Linked DNA regions of Homo sapiens. The protein of the gene in region 1 interacts with the protein of each later gene in a pairwise test. Each region holds a gene or a part of one and is shown in the gene's direction. Other genes may lie near its edges. The genes, in order: TRPC6 and RNF24.

Evidence for each region.
Region 2: the proteins of TRPC6 (region 1) and RNF24 interact in a two-hybrid assay, tested with the Homo sapiens proteins (one study listed by BioGRID).

What each region holds. Positions count from the first base shown.
Region 1 is NC_000011.10:101,581,985-101,585,584, reverse strand, and holds the start of TRPC6 (short transient receptor potential channel 6), read left to right. Parts: upstream 1-1,577; 5' UTR 1,578-2,081; coding exon 2,082-2,251; intron 2,252-2,317; exon of another isoform or gene 2,318-2,410; intron 2,411-3,600. UniProt on the Homo sapiens protein: Forms a receptor-activated non-selective calcium permeant cation channel. Probably is operated by a phosphatidylinositol second messenger system activated by receptor tyrosine kinases or G-protein coupled receptors.
Region 2 is NC_000020.11:3,931,700-3,935,818, reverse strand, and holds part of RNF24 (RING finger protein 24), read left to right. Parts: intron 1-745; coding exon 746-825; intron 826-1,617; coding exon 1,618-1,756; 3' UTR 1,757-4,119. UniProt on the Homo sapiens protein: May play a role in TRPCs intracellular trafficking.

The sequences.
Region 1 (3,600 bases):
TGGGTAGAAAACCTTTGAATATTACTTTTCCCATGAATGTTTTCCCCATACTTGGTGTTGCCAAAGAGATTACCTTGGCACTGTTTAACTAAACGTTTATTGATTAATTCATTCAAGCATCAAAGCTAATGAATACTTACAGATAGCAGTTGCCACAAACAAATTTTAGGAAGAATATCTTATTGCTAGGTATAGTAACTAGAAAATTATAAGAATTTTAAATCATGGCTCCACATGTTGAAAGATCAAAAAGGAAGGCTGTTAAATCAGAAAGAACAGACTTCAGAATGATGCAGGTTGTTTGTTTCCCCAGGGAAAATGTTCTTTCCAGGGCCAAGAGCATTTTCTTATTTTTTCTATATTCCTTCCATCCATCCATCCATCCATCCGTCCATCCATCCATCCATCCACCCACCCACCCACTCACCCACCCAAGCATGCATGCATGCACCCTACACACCTGTGTCAAATACGAAGCTGGATCCTCAGGACACAGTGGTTTCTGCTCTCTCTGAGTTTCAGTTCTAAATTTAAAGGCAAACTCAGAAGTTTCTAAATGTGTGAGCTCTTTTCCCTTCTATCAAATCAATTGCATTTTCCCACACTTCCAACATTCATTTTGTTGTCCACCTGTTCATGGGAAGCAAAGGCACCTTTGCAGACAGATTTCAGTCTGGCTTTCTTTCATCCAATTGCAATGGGCCTCTGATCTTTTCATGGCTGGCTGCTTGCCATGCATGTCTCAACTTAACGAGCACCTCCTTGGAGGGGCCTCTTTTAACCATCTCATCTGAAGTAGTCATTCACCAGCTGCCATCACATCAACCTGTTTTATTTTCATTGTAGCATTTGTCCTTGATATTTTTTCATTTGCTTATTTAATTGGTCCCCCTTTCTGCCACGAAAGCTCTATGAGGGCAGACAGGTGCCTCATCTGCTTCTTTGCCTCCGAATTCTGAAATGATTTGAAACGCAGTTGGCATTCATTAAATATTTGTTGACTTAATGAATGGATTCTTAATTGGCTACTACTGCTTAAAGGTCTACAAATACTGATTCATCCTTGTTGACAAGTTTTTACTTCTCACACGTATGCATATTAATCAGAATTTAAAACTAAGTCTTAAAAATAAAACAGCTTGGAAACGTGGGAAACATCTGGCAGAGAAATCATTCTTGCATTCGCAGTGACGGAAGGAAAATTTTTTCTCTGAAGTAAGCAGGTTGTTGGCCTCTTTATCGGTATCATTGGAAAATGCTTGCCTATTTTTGTTGGTTTTCTCAGGAACTGGGAACATCTGGCGTTTGGAACATAGAACGTTGTTCATTTTTAAAGCAGAGTCATAATAACTTTATGAGTTGAGGGTAAGAGAGAAAATGACCAAAGAAAATGAAGGCAGTCTGGAGAAAGAAGAGGCTCGTGTCCCTTTTAAGGAACAGGTTTCCTTGGCTCTTTGAGAGTGGTTCTTAAAGGAAGCTTCCTACGAAGTCCGCAGTTGGTATCCTTACTAAATGAGCCAACTAAATAGTGGAGGGGAAAAAAAGAGTGCGTGCCTGGCTCCTCCTAGTTCAGGCTCATACCGCCTCCTGAAAGTTGTGGCTACAGGACAGGCTTTGGCTGCTTTCTAGAACGTCGCTCGGATCCCTTTAAAGGTGGGGATCTTGACGGAGAGTGCGGGGGATGAAGGCGGGAGCTGAGGGCTGGAGAGTCTCTGTTGACATAGTAACTCTTCAGCTCCGTCTCCCTTGCTCTCCGCTCTTACGCTTCGCTACCACCAGCGGCCCCGCCTGTGCCCTCTCTGCCCGGGCGCCCCAGACGCATCCTCGCGGGGTCTCCTCGGCCTGACCTGCTCAGGTCAAGATCCTCTTTGCACCCCCTTAAGTGGTGACTTTTCCCCGGGCCAGTGGGCGAGCCACTTGCGGCGGGCGTCTGCACCCCCTGCTTCACCGTCGTCCCCTGGGCACCGGTCTGCCCAGGTCCAGTTCGGCCGCTGACGCGAACCCTCCGCACCGGGTCCCCGCTGGAACTGCCCACTCGGCTCCCCCGGGAGCGGGGCCCAGGCCAGTCGGGCGTTCCCGCCATGAGCCAGAGCCCGGCGTTCGGGCCCCGGAGGGGCAGTTCTCCCCGGGGCGCTGCCGGAGCCGCTGCGCGGCGCAACGAGAGCCAGGACTATCTGCTCATGGACTCGGAGCTGGGAGAAGACGGCTGCCCGCAAGCCCCGCTGCCTTGCTACGGCTACTACCCCTGCTTGTGAGTGCCGGCGACGCGGGGCGGATCGGGCGCGGGCTGCGCGGAGGGAGGTTGTGCGCTCGCAGGAGTGGCCGAGTCCGTCCGCGCGCGTCCTGAACCCGCGTGTGTACCTCCTAGGACGGTGCTGGGAGGTCCGCGAGAGCCAGGGCTGGGACCTGAGTGAGTGGAGGGGCGCGCGGGGAGTGGGGGAGGCGGGGTTGTCTAGGTTTGCTCCTCGTAGGTACGCATGGATATGTTTGCCCACGAGAGTGAGACCGCATAGTAACACCACCATTGCAGGTGATTAGATGGGTGGTCGATTTCTCCAGACCCCTTCATCCTGCGCTCTACAAGAGACAGGATCGCTACGTAACAGGCGGGATCTGAACAGGGGGCTGATTCAGATGTGCGCCCGGGTGACTCTTAGCCTATGTGGGGGAGAGATGACTAGAACTCCAAGGGTTGGAGCTGCCTGGGTGCTGGGTGCGCCCGGCGGTCTCCACGCTTGGCTTAGCGTTTCGGGCTGAGCGCTGAGGTCCTTGGACCGTGGGACAGCCAAAGTTAGACCAGGACCTCTCCCCGGTCCTGGGGCCTTGGAGTGAAGACAGAAATAGAACCAATAGGACTCTCCACCGGCGGCGCGAACCTTTTCACCCGGGGCGTCTGGGGAGACGAGCCTGTTAGGGGCTGGGAGACTCACGGGCTATAGAAGTGAGGGCGTCGGGTCGTTTGTATTGGGCTGTGGGTAACTGCAAGCTTTTGTTTATGAATCTAGGGTATTTTTTTTTTTAGCTGGGTGGGTGGCGGGAGGGGAGGTAGGGAGTAAGCAGAGTGGACTCCAGAAGAAAAGACTCCGCTTCCCCGACACCGCTGTGACCACATGTGCAGCGGGCAGATAGCATTTCTGTCCCATTGCCCCTTTGGGTGATTGGGTAGTCAAGTTTCCTGACTTGTCACATCCACCCGCAAGCGGTTTCCCGAGGTTCTCAGCTCTATAAACAGCTTTAGTTGGAGGGAGGATTCCACCCCATAGGCGCCTGGCAGACCCTCCTGATAGATGGGTGCTGTGTCAGGGCTGCCCAGCCTCAAGCCCTGCTGCGGTGCCCTTTCGAAGTAAGAGGTGAGCCGCAGTAAAGGGAGCATCTAACTTTTCTCAAAGATAAAGGAGAATAGTTAGAACTGGTTTCATTCATCTGTGTGCTGTGCAAGTTAAGAGCATTTACAATTATGTATATGTTTTTCTTTTTAAAAGTTCAAGACATAATTCCCATACCACGTAATTCCCCCATTTAACTTGTACAATGCACTATTTTTAATATATCCATAAAGTTGTACAGCCACCACTAATATCTAATTCCAGGACAATTTCA
Region 2 (4,119 bases), on another chromosome or scaffold:
CTTCTGTTTCCTCATCGGTAAAATGGGTCAGTGTGGTGACACATGGTATCCACGGGCCCTGGTGAATGCCCAGGAAAGTGTTGGAACCCAGCCCCTGGGTACGATGGCAAAGGCCTCTCTCCAAGCCATGGAGACTAGTCATTGGCTGAGAGCAGTCCTGGTCCCATCTGCACATGTTCATGAGTTAACTGAGTCTTCAGTAACTTTTTATATGACAGAGACACTGACAGAAGGACAGTGCCAAAGTGGGAGGCCCCAGGAACTATAAATAGCATGTTACTGCAAGCTGTGCATAAAAACAGGAGAAAAGATTGCCAGGGCTTGAGCGGTCCCTTTCAGTGAGTGCTTGGGAGCCAGGCTGTGCTGCTGACAAGGTGGAGAACCCAGAGAGCCTCAGCTCTTTCGGCACACCAGGAAAGGGACAGCAGGCTAAGCTGGCAGATGTGAGAGTAACCCTCCCTCGGTCCCACACTTCTGATGCACTGAAGTAAAGGCAGCTGCCTCTTGCTTTCTGTCTTCTCCCATCTGCCCACCTCCTTGAAGATATGGGACAGGAAGAGCAGGAGACATTCATCTATTTTGGCCTGTTTCTTTTCAGTCATTTATTCATTCATTTCTTTTTTTTTTAAGATAAGAGTCTCATGAGTCCCTTCAAACGGTTGAGCCTTTAGGAGCCTGCACTCTACTTTGTACCTGGGAGGGTACTTAACAGACACTTGGCTTCATTTGTGCATTTGTCTTTCAGCTCTGTGCAGTGTGCCTAGAAGACTTCAAGCCTCGAGATGAGTTGGGGATTTGCCCATGTAAGCACGCCTTCCACAGAAAGTAAGTATTGGTATGGAATTACTTAATGGGACCCGAGTTTGAGGCACATCAACCAACTTCTTTTGGGTTTTAGGGCAGTGCCAGACAAGCTTGATGGCTTCATGATTGGTCTGTAATGCAGAAAGCTGACAGCACCCTACAGGTGGGATGTGTGTGTGTGTGCGTGACATTAGGAGACAGCAGAGTGGTGGAACGTGACCACCACGTCAGGACTATGGGCAGAGAGCCAAAATGAGCCTACACTTGGAGCCCAAGCAATAAACAGCTATTTAGCTGGAACTTTCCACTGAGAGCCTCATCTCCTAAAAACTTATTTAAATCAAAACCATAGTTATTTAAAATCAAAATAAAGTCTGGATATAAATGGTAGTGTGGGGCACTCTCCTCCCACTTCCTGCAGACATATTAATATTCTTCCTCTTATAATTTTTTGTTTTGTATTTCTGTTAGAAAAATTTATTTTCCTACTTCTCACATCCCTGCTCAGTGTATTTTGTTCTTGTAAGAAGTCATGGGTAACTGAGAGTATCACATACTATCTGTGGCTTCACACGTGGAAGATGGGAGGCTCTGGAAGGAAGAGGGGATTGCTGACCCCTTGGCCTCTCCCCACTCCTTCTCTCTGTCTCTTCCCTCTCTCCAGGGGGTGACATCCGTTCACCACCTAGGAGGGGAGCTCCTTGGACCATACAGCAGACGTTGTCTGGGTGACAGATATGGAGATGTTCAGCAGAACAGCCGTGCCATGAGCATAGGACTGACATCTTCCCCCTGTGGTGTCTCCTTCTGCAGGTGCCTTATTAAGTGGCTGGAGGTTCGTAAAGTGTGTCCCCTGTGCAACATGCCAGTTCTACAGCTGGCCCAGTTGCACAGTAAGCAGGACCGTGGACCCCCTCAGGGGCCCCTTCCTGGGGCAGAGAACATTGTATAGCTTACCGCAAGGATCAGACTGTTGCTGGACACGACGTCTGTGTGGAGCCAGGAGGAACACATGTGGTGTCTGTATGGCTGCTCTCTACCTAGGACACCAGCTGCCACTTCTTTTGCCTCATGAAGAACTCTTGGGCCAGCCAAACTGGGAACCTAGGTGTCTGGGTCTTGTGACAACCAAAGCACTTTGACACTACCCCCTGCCGAGAGAAGAGGAGTGGATGAGCCTGCGGGTTTGCCTCAAGAAACTTCATGAGGGTCTCTTACTAACTCCATTACACTCTCTCTCCTGGAGCCTCATCTCCATGTCAAGCAGGAGGGTAAAGAAGGGAACTAAGAGCAGGTCTTTCAAGCCACACCCCCACCTGCGGATGGATGGGTTTCTCTGTAGGCCATGCAGGCCTTTGTCGCAGCAAACCTTCCCAGCAGCCCTTGAGCCAAGTAAAACCAGCACAACCAGCCACCAGTGGTTGGTGAGGCAGTGCCCACAAGGCTCATGTTGTATGCCTTTGATAAGGCCATCTTGGCTTTGAGTAGCAGTGTTCCTCGTCACCCATTTCCCCCTCAGGATTACAACACCTGCTATCAAATCATCTAAGCTGAAAACATGAGATGCGCTTGGAAAGGCCTAGTCAGAAGCCATTTCCTCTTATCATTTCCCTCTCCTATGCACCAGTAAGGCCCGTCCAGAGCCCCAGCAGGGAGTGGGCCCTGAGTCCACACTGTCCCTGAGTGATCCAGGAGGCTGCCCACATCCCCACATGTGCACTGTGGTTCCAGTGTAGCTGCTGTGAGCCCACTGCCACTGCCTCAGAAGGGAGCCACTGTGAACCTCTCGAGTGGCTCCAAAGAGCAGTGGCTTTTTGAGAATGGCCCATACTTCTGGCCCGGCTGGATGAAGGGAATGCCGACCCTTTGGCCTCTCCCCCTCCTTCCATCTCTTCTCTCTCTTGCCCTATCTCTCTTTCTACTTCAGAAAAAAAAAAAAAAAAAAAAAAAAGCCTGTCATTCACTTTTTAACACTTTATCCCAAATAAGATCCCTGTGTAATTCTGAAGCTGGTGATCCACTTGGAATTGTAGATAGTTTCAGGAAGCTCCTGCAGGGCTGTCCACCGTTGGTGTGTGCCTCAGTATTTGGACTTCCGAAACTGAAAGTGAAAGTGTCTTTATAGGAGAGAAACGCATGCTGCTCTTTGGCTCTTTCTGTCCAACTTTTCTAGAAATGACTCAAAGTCCATTAAGATTTGTGAATATTGTATAAATTAGCTATGGAAAGTAGCAGGTCAGATGGAAAATTCTTTTCCACAGCCCTGCTCTCCGCCTCCCTCCATCTTAGGAGCGCCTGCCTCAATTCCTCGTCAACTGCTTTGCTCCACTCCATCCCACAGGTGTGAGTGGGGGAAGTTTTTCATTAGGAATACAGTCTGCGTGACATGGAGAATGGATGGAGGGAGCTTTGCTACTCTGCTCTTGGCATGACTCCAGGATTTTTTTCTGGAATCCAACCTCTGTCCTCTTAGGAGAAGGAACCTGTCCTTGGTTCAGATGGCTGGGCATGAGGAGGAAAATTTCCATTAGTGTAGAACAGTGCTGGACAGAATCCGGTTTGGAAAATTACAAATCCAGTTGGTCAAAATAGGCCATTTCCTATGTGTGACCTATTCGTGGTATGCCAACTGGACTGCTTCCTAAACAGGACGAGGAAAGTGAGGAATATTTTTATATGAAAGCCTTAGCCTGTCTGGCACCCATGAAAAAAACTATTTATGCACTCCTACTTTCACCGTCTTTTTGCATTCTCTATTTGTAGCACAACAGAGTTGAATGCCACAAAACACCCCGTTTATAGTGAGCTGTTTTCAGTGACCAATATCAGAAGGAGGCTTGCTTCTGGACTAGCCTCACTAATTGCCAGCAGCCACCATTTTCCATGGAATGGCCTTGGGACAGATGTCACCTCTGTTATGGGGCTCTAATAGGAAAGAGAATGTTTTTTCCCTTCCTATGATCAATACTGCAAATTATTGCTGCTCACAGCTTTTATAGGATTCTCCCAACTGAAAGTTGCAGGCTTTTTCTGTCCCTGTGCATCAGTACTAACAAAAGACAGCCTCACCAAGTCTGTATATTTGAACAGAGGCAAGTTAATTCATCCCCCCGTGTCAGAGCCACAGGCATGTTGAGGGGGTTGATACGTAGCACTGGACCAGGGCGCAAAGCCCAGATAGTTCCAGCCATGAGAGGAGAGCACAAGAATGCTCTGCACTCTGCACTCAGCACCACCTTGGGTCTGCTTTGCCCAGATGAGGGACCACTAACAACCTTCTCAGCACATGTGAATGTGGACTGGTTTTAAAATGCA